Linked DNA regions of Homo sapiens: all the other regions are reported to be linked to region 4. The links are microRNA targets in miRTarBase. Many come from high-throughput screens and were not tested one by one. Region 4 holds a microRNA gene; each other region holds the end of a gene's coding sequence.
The links. Region 4 holds the annotated microRNA hsa-miR-4793-3p (UCUGCACUGUGAGUUGGCUGGCU, at 1,863-1,885, shown strand). A microRNA usually pairs through its seed, bases 2 to 8, with sites in the 3' UTR of a target mRNA and lowers its output. Matches are read on the target gene's strand: a 7mer-m8 pairs with bases 2 to 8, a 7mer-A1 pairs with bases 2 to 7 and ends in A, and an 8mer does both.

Region 1 (3,107 bases), not on the chromosome of region 4:
CCTTTGCCCATTATGAGGACCAAGAGGTACTGGGAAGATAAAGAGAACTGAAAATTTCAAACAAGAACCCTCTATATAATGTGTAAGATGTACTTTTACAGATGCTATTATGATAAAATTAAACATATTCAAATGCTTATAGCATATGGTTACTTTTGCCCAGATATCAAAAGAAGTTACATGACTTTCAAAATTAGTATCAAAAACAGGATATTTAAATCCAGCCACATGTACAGAACTATGAATCTTTGTTCTTCTCAGAGCTGAACACAATGACTCCACGAGATGTTTTCACTCAGAAGTGGCATATTAAAAACCCAAAAGCATCTCCCTCTGCTTAATTCCACTTAAACTACATAAAAATTGCCAATATGACTTTTCACCAGCTTCTCCATTTTATTTGAAAATAATACTTTTAAAATGATTTTGACATTTTCATATATAAATTTATTTTTTTCCCAACTATAATTTTGGTTTTATGTACAAGTACACAAGTACCACCTTATTTTTAATGTTTACCTTGAAGGGTAGAAAACAAAATCATGTTTTATAAATGTGGTATAAAATTACACATCTTCTCATGATGTCATGTCAATAATCCACTACACTAAACCAACTGTAACAAGGTAGTACATGCTTTAAACATCCAATTAAGAATAAATCTGAGCCAACACCTTGATGATGACAAGGGAATGTGCTGATATCGTGTTAAACTGATGTGGCAGTAATCCAAGGGACTAAGCACATGATTATTCAAATTAAAACATAAAAAGGACAAAAGGTGTGGATTTTCTGGGCTACATCACATAATATTTGTCTGGCGAAACCATAATACAGATTTGGGTAAAGGAGATTTTTAATAGATAACAAGTAATTCTTTATAGGGATTTGAGAAAGTACGAGAACATATGGGAAAAGCTTAGTAATTTAAGATTTACTTTTGTAAAACCATGTGGACAAATATTAAATGTTATGCTTGCATTTTGAACATTATAAATATAAAACATAAAACATCCAATGTTAAATACTGATATCCCATGCCTGACCTGGATTTAGATATTGAGTATTTCCCATTTTAAAGAAAGAAACTTTCAAAGTTTTGTCAATACTTAAACTATATACTATTATTCCTCACCAAAATCTTCATGAAATTTAAAAGGCTGATATTGAAGGTAGTTTTTTTTTCTCAAATATGCTAAAACATGTGAGTTTGGATTAACCTTCAGATTTTCAAGGCATGAAAGATACATAAATAGAGTACCCAAGAATATGTTTTAACACATTTAGGATAAGTTTGTTTACAGTTGTGACAGGAATACCTTTGACTTTCAGACACTGAAAAAATATACCCTAAGCAAACATAAAAGGTGTTTTGGGTCAAGTTACTTCTTAGTACAAATAATACGTTGTATCAATCAATTTTTAAGCCAAATTCTTAAAATCATTCAAAAAACACTTGCATTTTATAATTGTCAATGCATTTATGTAATAGAAGATACAACAAAATTTAGAAATAAAAAATCTCACACTATATTCCAAGTACCAAAATAAGAAGAAATTTGCAAATTAAGAAATTATCAATGTTGCTCAGAAACATGCCTTACTTTTACTCTGAAATTCACTTTAACTGCTTGACATATAATTTAATACTTAAAAATAATATAGCTAAGTTGTTTAATAGTATTTATAGAATGCTACTTTTCTGGGTAGACATGTTTCACAAAACAGTTTTCAATTAATGCTGAGCATTCATTTGATAATTGTAATCATAATTTGATTCACTGATTAATGGATTAATAATTTATTCAGTAATTTAGATGCCATAAGAACCACTGAAAGGAATAATCTGATAGTTGCTCATTGTACAATCCTGCCTATTAGTAATACTAAGCCAAGAATCTGCTAGCTTTCCCACTCTGTTGAATTACATGTTTCCATGTGTGTGATTTTGGTCAACAACAAAAAATCGATACACAATGTCATGCTTTTTCCTTTTCCTTTTTTTTTTTTTTAAACAAGCAGCTCAGCGATTTGGGAGGTTGGTTAGTACAATACAGAGAACACAGAGAGAAAGTATAAAATGGCACTGAACACTAATGCCAATACTTATCTCATTGTGGTTATAACGAAGGATATTATTATTTGTGTTATTTTTGTCTGGAACATAAATCAATGCCATTAACTTGAACTTGAGGTATATACACAATACACACACAACCTTAAGCAAAATACTTTTCATAAGTAACATTACATTTTAAAATATTGGAAACATTCGAATATCTGTGCTGATTTGTATTCTGACTTAATGGAACAAGAAGAAAATAACATTCAACTAGGGAGGGTTAAACTGATAATAAAGCTCTTAAAATTCAAAATGTCTTCCTCTCCCTTTGTACTTACCATAGGCTACACAATGTCCTGAGAGGATTCATTATGAGAAAAATGTCAATCACAGCTTCAATAACTTACTTTGGAAAAAACTAATGAGAAAGCAAACTGGAAGGTGAGACTTCATCTTTGTTTTCAAATAAGTGGTCTTAATTTTTCTTCTTATAGAAAAAGTTTAAATCAGTTTATTATAAATATATCTAAACCATTAATTTTTGCAGCTTTCAGGTAAAGTCCAGCACTTCATTTATACAAAATCTATGAGAAGAGGTCAGTAGAGATCATCTAATCTTAAGTCGTGACATCATCCATTCAAGTCCTTGGCACAATCTATAAAGAAAACAAAATCATTTGATTAAATTCTGAACTAAGAAGCTATGAGCAGCAAACTATGAACAGCAAACTAAAAGAGAGCATTTTTCATTTAGCTAAATAACAAAGATTTAAAAATCAATAATATTCAGTGCTTGGGCTGCTGCAGTGAAGCCATATTCTCATACACAATACATCTGTGCTTTTTTTGTCTTTCCTCTTTTTTAGACAGGGTCTCACTCTGTCACCCAGGCTGGAGTGCAATGGCACAATCAATGGCAGCCGTGACCTCCTGGGCTCAAGCGATCTCCCCACCTCAGCTTCCCCAGCAGCAGGGACTACAGGCGTGTGCCACCACACCCAGCTAATACATCTGTGCTCTTTTGGTTCAGTTATATCTCTAGCAC
Region 2 (3,000 bases), not on the chromosome of region 4:
GCTTCAGTGAGCTATGATTGTGACACTGTACTCTAGCCCCGGTAACATAGAGACCCAGTATCTTAAAAAAAAAAAAAAAAAAAAAAAGTAATTGCAAAACATTTAATCAGCTTAAGACCTTGTGGGTCTTTTAAAAGCATGATCACAGACACAAACACAGATCCTACATTTGCCCTATCTGAGCTGCTGGAATCTCTTGGTCCTCCTGAGGAATAGTGGGGGGTTGGGGGGAGAGTGAATCTTAAGTCTGGGTGTCCTGACAGCATCCCTTCTGCTATCCACCTCTGCCCCTTGGTCCTCCAAGCGGCCCATGTGAAAAATGGCCAATTCCTTTCCCCTGGTCACCCCTGTTCTCACTTCTGGGGTAAAAAAGAATTAAAAAAAAAATCCTTGTCAGTTTTCAGCCAAAGTCTCTGGAATTTATTGCAAATTACCTTTAGAAAGTTAAATGTGGCCTGGCGAGGTGGCTCACGCCTGTAATCCCAGCACTTTGGGAGGCTGACGTGGGCAGATCACCTGAGTTCAGGAGTTCAAGACCAGCCTGGCCAACATAGTGAAACCCCATCTCTACCAAAAATACAAAAATTAGCCGGGCATGGTGGCAATCGCCTGTAATCCCAGCTACTCGGGAGGCTGAGGCAGGAGAACTGCTTGAACCCAGGAGGCAGAGGTTGCAGTGAGCCCAGATCACGCCACTGCACTCCAGTCCGGGCAACAAGAGTAAAATTCCATCTCAAAAAAAAAAAAAAAAAAGAAAAAGAAAAGAAAGTTAAATGCATCTGTTTTTACAGCCTAACTTACCCAAGAATGGGACAGAGCTCTCTCTGGACCACAGGCAGGATTTGGCAGCACTGCTCAGGCAGATGTCATCCTGGGACCAAGGACCAAGCATTTTCTTACTTGTTGATCAAAAGAATTAAAGGCCACTTAACATTCTGTCATTTACACTTGTGTGGCTACTCAAGAATATAGATTTTATTTTGCAGTGAAATTATAGAAAAAAATAAAGAATATTGATTTTAGACTGAGCATAGTAGCTTATGCCTGTAGTCCCAGTACTTTGGGAGGCCTAGGTGGGAGGACCACTTGAGGCCAGGAGTTTGAGACCAGCCTGGGCAACATAGCCCAACTCTGTCTCTACAAAAAATTAGTTGAGTGCCGTGATGCACACCTTTAGTCCCAGCTACTTGGGAGGGTGAGGTGGGAGGAGAGCTTGAGCCCAGGAGTTCAAGGCTGTGGTTTGCTGATTGCGCCCCTGCACTCCAGCCTGGGCGACACCACAAGATCCTATCTCTAAAGAAAAATAAAAATAAATAAATAAATTAACTGCCTTAAAAACATTAGCCAGGTGCGGTGGCACACACCTGTAGTTCCAGCTACTCAGGAGGCTGAAGTAGGAGGATAGTTTGAGCCCGAGATTTGGAGGCTGCAGTGAGCCACAATCACACCATTGCACTCCAGCCTGGGTGACAGAGGGAGACCCTGTCTCAAAAAAGAAAAAAGTGGGGGGGGGGGAAGACTATCAACTTCAGAAGTAGATGAAATATATATTTAGTAATCTAAGTATCTACATAAAGATACTATGTTTGACTCATTGGCAGGTATGAGTTCATGGCCCAGCGTTCTTTATTAAAATAACAGCTTTCATAGTACACGCTGTGGTTACGTCATTTTTCTTTCAGAGTATTATTACCTTTTAAAAGCTTCTTAAATCCCAAGTTAAAGCTGTTACATTCTAACCCAGTCTCAGAGCTGATTGGCTCAAAACCTCTGTGGGCCAGTAATGCCACATTACCCCGGAGGGGCGGGCAGCGCGGGGGTCAGGGAGCTGCCAAAGCCAGCCCTCCTACTGGCCAGCACGCACATTCCAGGGGATAAATAGGATTAAGTGCTCTAAAGAGGATTCCCAGCCCTCCTGCAAAGGAGGTTCAAACACTCTGGTCTAGTTCTGAACAAAAATAAGCCCCAGAGAAGGAGAAAGTGCCTGTTTAAACACCAGGTGGCCCTACCCCAAGCCTCTGCTCTTCCTCTTACCCCCATCTCCGGGTGGCTGGGGAGAGCCCTTTTCCGCAGGCAAGTGTGCGCACTGGATCCAAGTCCGTGAGAGTAGGTTCAACCCACCCTCTTTGGTTTCCTAAATAGGGTCAGCCCCTGAGCGGCAGTGGGAGGTCATGACCTCAAATCTCTTCTAGCTGCTCTTGGGGACGAATGGATAAACTCTGCTAGGAAGGGCTGTAGCGCGTCTTAGAGAAAGCCCTTTGTATGAACTGCTCTCGGGACACTCTCCTAAATTTAGGCCCTGAAAGATTAAGGTAATAAAAGCTGCTGACATTTGATTGCAATTTTTCTTGTCCGGGAAACAGACCAACCACATAGAACCAAACAGCGTCCCTCTCCAAACTTCACTCCACCCCACCCACCTTTTCAAACTGTCCCACGCAGAAAGGGGGCGACGCTGGCAGGGGTGGGCACCGAACTCGGACTCCCTGTAAAGACGCCCCAACAGCACATGTGTTAACTCATTAACTCGGAGGGATCTAGGGTCACTGTGACGGTTTTCTATTAATAGGGAATAAAGCTCCTGCAGACGTTAGCGGTAATGCCCTGACGGCCGGCGCAAAGTTAACTCCTCCCGGGCCAGCAAGAGGAAACCGTGTCCTGCCCAGGCAGATGTGCACTGGAAACGCGCGTGTACCCATGCACACACGGGGTTTTAGGACCACTCCCCTTGCACAGGCCAGACCCCACACCCATCCCGAGTCTTTTCTCAGGGGAGGGAGCGGCAGCAGCAGGCGGCCGTCGGGTGTCCGTCAGCTCAGCTTCGCCACGCACACGGCTAGGGCCACAGCCGCCAGCAGCACGGCGCCGAAAAGGATGGCGGCCAGGGCCTTCCTGGGGTCGCAACCCCCCCCGCGCTCCTGCAAGGACACGACCGAGGAGGGGCCGGCGCTGACCGTGGACAGGAGCTCGGCGCCCGCCGCCTGCCGGGCTTGCACGGTC
Region 3 (3,107 bases), not on the chromosome of region 4:
GGCTGGGCTGCTCTTCCATGGGATGCTGCTGCTGCGGGGCCAGACCACATGGGAGTGGGCTCGGGGCCAGCACTCCTATGACCTGGGTCCCTGCCACAACCTGCAGGCAGCCCTGGGGCCCCGCTGGGCCCTCGTCTGGCTCTGGCCCTTCCTGGCCTCCCCATTGCCTGGGGATGGGATCACCTTCCAGACCACAGCAGATGTGGGACACACAGCCTCCTGACTCCAGGAAGAGCCAGAGCTGTGCAGGGAGGAAGGGGTGAGAGGGGGGCCCCCACACCTAGACTCAGTAAGGAAGTCGGGTTGGACCTTAACATCTGCATTGGACAACTCCACCCCTTCCTTGGCCTTGCCCCTGCCCGCCTACACTCCTACGTGTCCAGGGCTTGGGCCGTGACTTAGGCAGAGGAGTGCAGAGGAGGGTCTGGCAGGGGCTGCTCAGGCCGCCTAGCTGCCCCTTTGCCAGGTTAATAAAGCACTGACTTGTTTCTCAGCCTCCCTCCATCTTTGCATAGTTTCTGGCCCCTCACTTTGTTGCTGGGGCTGTTTCTGGGACCCTCTGTAGGGCCTGGAAACTGCAGGATGCCTGAGGGTCTCAGGGGCTGGGGCTCTACCTCCCCTGGCCTGGGTGAGTTGGGGGTGGGGCACCAGCACGCCAAGGCAGTGTCCTACTGATCCAGGCTATGAGAATCCAAACATTCTTTCCCAGGTTTGGCATTTTATAGTTAGAAGCATTTCTGCAACAGCAGTTTCATGGAACCTCTCTTAGCTAACCTGGTCCATGGGGCAGCAGTTACGCTCTAAGAATCCATGTGGTAAGATCATGGTGCGGCAAATGGAGGCAGGGTCCAACCCAGGTCTTTGTGCTTTTGCCTTTACCCTTGCACAGCTGGAGGAAATGAGTAGGAAAGAAATCAAGGTAAAGAAATGCGCTGGGGCTGTTTGGGCATCTGTGGAGGGTGGTGCTGACAGGGCTAGGCCTGCACCTCTCTGGCCTCCTCAAGAGCTGCTTGTTAAATGTTTCCGTGTAAATAGAATGAATAGAGACCGCCATTTCCACATGGCAGGCCTAAACACATGTGTTCGTCTCAGTTTTCTCTTAGGATCTCTCTAAGATGATAGTAAAGAAAATCAAAAATAATACAAAGGGAAAGAAAACAGGAGGGAAGACAGTAGAACACAGAGCCTGACCACATTTTCTTTTTTCTCTCTGTTGCCGGGGCTGGAGTGCAGTGGCACGATCTCGGTTCACTGTAACCTCCACCTCCCGGGTTCAAGTGATTCGGCCTCCCGAGTTGCTGGGATTACAGACACCCGCCACTATGCCCGGCTGATTTTTTTTTTTTTCTTTTTTGAGACGGAGTTTTGCTCTTGTTGCTCAGGCAGGAGTGCAATGGCGTGATCTCGGCTCACTGCAACCTCCGCCTCCTGGGTTCAAGCGATTCTCCTGCCTCAGCCTCCCGAGTAGCTGGGATTACAGGTGCCCGCCACCATTCCTGGCTAATTTTTGTATTTTTAGTAGAGACGGGGGTTTCACCATGTTGGCCAGGCAGGTCTCAAACTCGTGACCTTGTGATCCGCCCGCCTTGGCCTCCCGAAGTGCTGGAATTACAGGTGTGAGCCATTGCGCCTGGCCATGCCCAGCTAATTTTTTTGTATTTTTAGTATAGACAGGGTTTCACCATGTTGGCCAGGCTGAACTTGAATTCCTGGCACCTGCCTCCACCTCCGTCTCCCAAAGTGCTAGGATTACAGGCGTGAGCTACCGTGCCTGGCTGACAATTTTTTATTATTTTATTTTATTTTATTTTATTTTATTTTATTTGAGACAGACTCTTGTTCTGTTGCCAGGCTGGAGTGCAGTGGCACGATCTCGGCTCACTGCAAGCTCCGCCTTCTGGGTTCACGCCATTCTCCTGCCTCAGCCTCTCAAGTAGCTGGGACTACAGGTGCCTGCCACCACGCCAAGCTAATTTTTTGTATTTTTAGTAGAGACGAGGTTTCACCGTGTTAGCCAGGATGGTCTCGATCTCCTGACCTTGTGATCCACCTGCCTCGGCCTCCCAAAGTGCTGGGATTACAGGTGTGAGCCACCACTCCTGGCCGGCCAGGATGGTCTTGATCTACTGACCTCGTGATCTGCCCGCCTTGGCCTCCCAAAGTGCTGGGATTACAGGTGTGAGCCACCGTGCCCGGCCGCCTGGCTGACATTTTCAAAGATGGAAAGTGGATGGAGAATTAAGAGCTGAAATTATGTGTTCCCAAAAGGTGGGGCCAAAAGGCAAGTGGAATTACCTGCCAGAGCCCCGGAGGGGCTCAGGAACTCCACCAGGACCATGGAGGGTGAGGTGAGGCTTCGGCCAACAATGGGGACCGATGGAAAGTCTATGTAAGGATCAGTGGGGTGCCGCTCCCCCACATCCCACCCACACCCCACCCACATCATGCAGCCAGCAGCTACACCTCTGGGTGGGGTGGTGTGACGTGAGGATTATTTGAAGGATAAATGGAACCAGAGAAGCTTCGGGTCTTAGGCGTACTGGGGAGGGGTGGGTGAGAGGCTAGACCAAAAAATGGGGTTAAGTGAAAGTCCATAGATACTGCTGGGGGGCCTCCCATGAAAGAACATGCTTGACCCCCAAGAACCTTCAGAGAAACCCACCCTCTGACAGGCTCTGCCCATGCCCACAAAGATCTGAGCTGCTTGGCTGGTTGTTTTTGTAACAGGCATGCTCTGTTGCTATTTTTTAATGACAGGAGGAACTTGGTGTACCTGGCACTTTGGGCTGCACAGACGCATTAGCAGACTCACCTTGTCCTGTTTCATCCCTCGCCCTCCACAATTTCTTATTTTCTTTCTTTCTCTTTTTATTTTTTGAGACAGAGTTTCACTCTTGTTACCCAGGCTGGAGTGCAATGATGCGATCTTGGTTCACCGAAACCTCCGCCTCCCGGGTTCAAGCGATTCTCCTGCTGCAGCCTCTCGGTAGCTGGGATTACAGGCATGTGCCACCATGCCCGGCTAATTGTTTTTGTATTTTTAGTAGAGACGGGGTTTCTCCATGTTGGTCAGGCTGGTCTGGAACTCCTGACCTCAGGTGATCCAC
Region 4 (3,107 bases):
GGACCCCCATTCTGGAAACCCTTGGTCCCGTTAGCCCTTGGGAGGCCAACTAATAGTCCCAGCCTTCCCCTGGGGCCCCCACTAGTGCTGTTGTGCAACCCGGACCATGAGGAATGCTGTACCCCAACTCCAGGCACCCTCAGCCCTTCCCATGATCTCTCACAAACCCCTGCCTGACACTGGGTCACAGTTGTGTCTAACTGCCCTGTGGCTGCAGGGCGGAGCAGCATGGTGTGTGGACAGCACGGGACTGCGAGCTGGTGCACAGGAATGGGTCCCACGCACGGTGTCGCTGCAGCCGGACAGGGACCTTTGGGGTCCTCATGGATGCCTCTCCCCGTGAGGTGGGGCTGTGTTCAGTGTCCCAAGGAAGTGGGGGGTCAAAGGGACACGGGGATTCTGCCCAACAACCCATCAACCATCCCTGTCTCTGTAGAGGCTGGAGGGCGACCTGGAGCTGCTGGCTGTGTTCACCCACGTGGTCGTGGCTGTGTCTGTGGCTGCGCTGGTGCTGACTGCAGCCATCCTGCTGAGCCTGCGCAGCCTCAAGTCCAATGTGCGTGGGATCCATGCCAATGTGGCAGCCGCCCTGGGGGTGGCAGAGCTCCTCTTCCTGCTGGGGATTCACAGGACCCACAATCAGGTGCAGGATCAGGGCCAGGGAACTTGTGTCCTGATGACCCTACTGGCCCAGGAGGCCTGGGGCCAAAACTCAGGGTCAGAGGTCAGGGATGCTCAGGTTGGGGCCAGGGTTTTCAGCAGGATGCTGGGGTAAGATATTGTGGTTTAGGGGTGAGAGGTGGGAAGCAGATGCCTGGGGTAGGGGTCAGAGGTGGGTGAGGCAGGAGAGGTCCTGACACGCCCCCCTGCCCTCAGCTGGTGTGCACTGCAGTCGCCATCCTCCTGCACTACTTCTTCCTCAGCACCTTCGCGTGGCTCTTCGTGCAGGGGCTGCACCTCTACCGCATGCAGGTTGAGCCACGCAACGTGGACCGCGGCGCCATGCGCTTCTACCATGCCCTGGGCTGGGGCGTCCCTGCTGTGCTGCTGGGTGAGGGCTGTGACCCCCAACCTCCAACCATCACATGGCCTGACCCCTGACCCTGTCCCCACTCCTGCTCATGACCCCCAACCTCAAACCCCAAGCCATCTATTCATGGGGTTGCTGCTCTGCCCTCACCCATGCTTTCTCCCATACATGGGCTGGTCAGCAGCTCTGGAACACACACCCTCAGTCCTACCCTTTCTCTTCCCAAGGCCTTGCTGTGGGCCTGGACCCTGAGGGCTATGGGAACCCTGACTTCTGCTGGATCTCAGTCCACGAGCCCCTCATCTGGAGCTTTGCTGGCCCTGTTGTCCTGGTCATAGTGGTGAGTGCCCTGGACTTGGTGCCCCCTCTGTACTTCCCTCCCTCATTGGGGGAGGAGGTGCAGTGGACTCAGCTGAGGGCGGTCAGGTGGCATTCTGCAGGCTTCCTGGGCTCGGCCTTCATTTTTTCTGTCCTCTGGTCAGTAGCCACCCCCATTCAACTGGCATGGAGATGGGGGCGCGGGGTCAGAGATTCAGTTGCCTGTCCCTGCCTCTGTCTCTGCTTCTCTCTCTCAGTCCCTCTCTGGTTCCCAATTTCTTTTTCTGTGATGCTAAGCTCCTTTGGTGTGTGTGTATATGTGTGAATTTCTCACTGGTTCTGCCTCTCTCCGTGAATCTTAGTCTCTCTCTGTCTCTCATTGCCTCTCTCTCTCTCTCTCTCTCTGCCCTGCCCGGCCCCACATGTCTGGCCGTGGGTCCAGATGAACGGGACCATGTTTCTCCTCGCTGCCCGCACATCCTGCTCCACAGGGCAGAGGGAGGCCAAGAAGACCTCTGCACTGTGAGTTGGCTGGCTGGAGGAAGGGGGCTTCTCAGGATGGCAGGTCCCTCCTGGGTGGGGTCTGGGGCCCCCAGATCTTCCCTGGTGCAGGTTGGGCTCCAAGTTCTAGATGAAGGAATGAAGTCACACCTGCCCTGACCTGTGGTCCCTCTCTGGCGCCCTCGCTATACTGTAGCCCCACATGTGCTTCTGCCCTGCTGTCTCTCCTTGTCCTCTGGGTCCCCCCAGAGTCTCCCATGGCCTGGGTGGCTCACTTTGCCCCCTGCCCTGTGTGTTCCCACCTGTCTTCCGTGCCCTCCCTTGTGGCTCCCATACCCCTGTGTTTTCCCCACGTGTCCTCATGGCTCTTTGACTGCTCTCCTGTTTCTTTGTGGGACCTCCCATCTCCCCCAGTGTCCTCCAGAGACCTCCATGTTCCCGTGTGAGTTCCTTTTTTTCACGTTTCGTGTGTGGCCCCTGTGTGTCCTCCCGTGTTCCCTGCATGAGTCCTACATGAGCCTTGCATGTCCTCCTGTGTCTTCCCATGTCCCCACAGCAGGACCCTTCGCAGCTCCTTCCTGCTGCTTCTGCTGGTCAGTGCCTCCTGGCTCTTTGGGCTCCTGGCAGTCAACCACAGCATCCTAGCCTTCCACTACCTCCATGCTGGACTCTGCGGCCTCCAGGTGACTCTGGTGCCCCTCCCTTGCCCCAGAACCAGGTGGGCCTTCAGTAGGCTGGGGCCATCCCTAGGCAGACGTTGACCCTAGGCCTGGAGCTGACTCTTACTGGATAACTTTGCCAGGCTGGGTACTACCCCAGACCAGACACTGGCCCTAGCTGCTGCCCCCAGGCCTGGAGCTGACTCTAACTTAGGCACTGATCCCAGACTGAGTGCTGATCTTGGATCGACCTTCACCAACACCAAGGCTCCCGACCCCTTGCTGATCCACACCGACCTTACAGACTCCAGCCACTCCTGCTGCTCCATCCTCTCCCCTGCTGACCTTCCCCAACTCCCTTACTGAGTCCCGCATGGGCTCCTCACTGACCCACACTAGCCTACAGTGACTGACCCCATTGCTGACCCACAGTGACTTATACTGGTCCCTGATTGATCCCTGCCGACTCTGCTTTGACCCTCGCTGACCCACAGGGCCTGGCGGTGCTGCTGCTCTTCTGTGTCCTAAATGCAGATGCTCGGGCTGCCTGGATGCCAGCCTGTCTGGGCAGGAAGGCAGCGCCTGAGGAGGCAAGGCCA

Region 1: the mRNA of ARL5A is a reported target of hsa-miR-4793-3p. The part of its 3' UTR that is shown has no 7-base or 8-base seed match.
Region 2: the mRNA of RGS9BP is a reported target of hsa-miR-4793-3p. The part of its 3' UTR that is shown has no 7-base or 8-base seed match.
Region 3: miRTarBase lists ZDHHC24 as a target of hsa-miR-4793-3p. Seed matches in the 3' UTR shown: 8mer at 410-417, 7mer-m8 at 1,227-1,233 and 7mer-m8 at 1,857-1,863.

The regions. Positions count from the first base shown.
Region 1 is chr2:151,800,607-151,803,713 of GRCh38, forward strand. ARL5A (ARF like GTPase 5A) reads right to left here. Exons shown (of 6, transcript NM_012097.4): 6 at 1-2,718. The coding sequence ends at 2,670. Among named protein-coding and RNA genes, the nearest start is that of ARL5A, 26 kb to the right of the region's middle.
Region 2 is chr19:32,676,782-32,679,781 of GRCh38, reverse strand. RGS9BP (regulator of G protein signaling 9 binding protein) reads right to left here. Exons shown (of 1, transcript NM_207391.3): 1 at 1,482-3,000. The coding sequence ends at 2,811. Among named protein-coding and RNA genes, the nearest start is that of RGS9BP, 2.4 kb to the right of the region's middle.
Region 3 is chr11:66,536,645-66,539,751 of GRCh38, reverse strand. It overlaps ZDHHC24 (zDHHC palmitoyltransferase 24), which reads left to right. Exons shown (of 3, transcript NM_207340.3): 3 at 1-3,107. The coding sequence ends at 223. Among named protein-coding and RNA genes, the nearest start is that of ZDHHC24, 7.8 kb to the left of the region's middle. RefSeq lists an enhancer at 1-152.
Region 4 is chr3:48,642,979-48,646,085 of GRCh38, reverse strand. MIR4793 (microRNA 4793) reads left to right here and starts at 1,806; the gene lies at 1,806-1,892. CELSR3 (cadherin EGF LAG seven-pass G-type receptor 3) reads left to right here. Exons shown (of 35, transcript NM_001407.3): 23 at 218-344; 24 at 437-643; 25 at 877-1,051; 26 at 1,258-1,370; 27 at 1,791-1,870; 28 at 2,409-2,532; 29 at 3,003-3,107.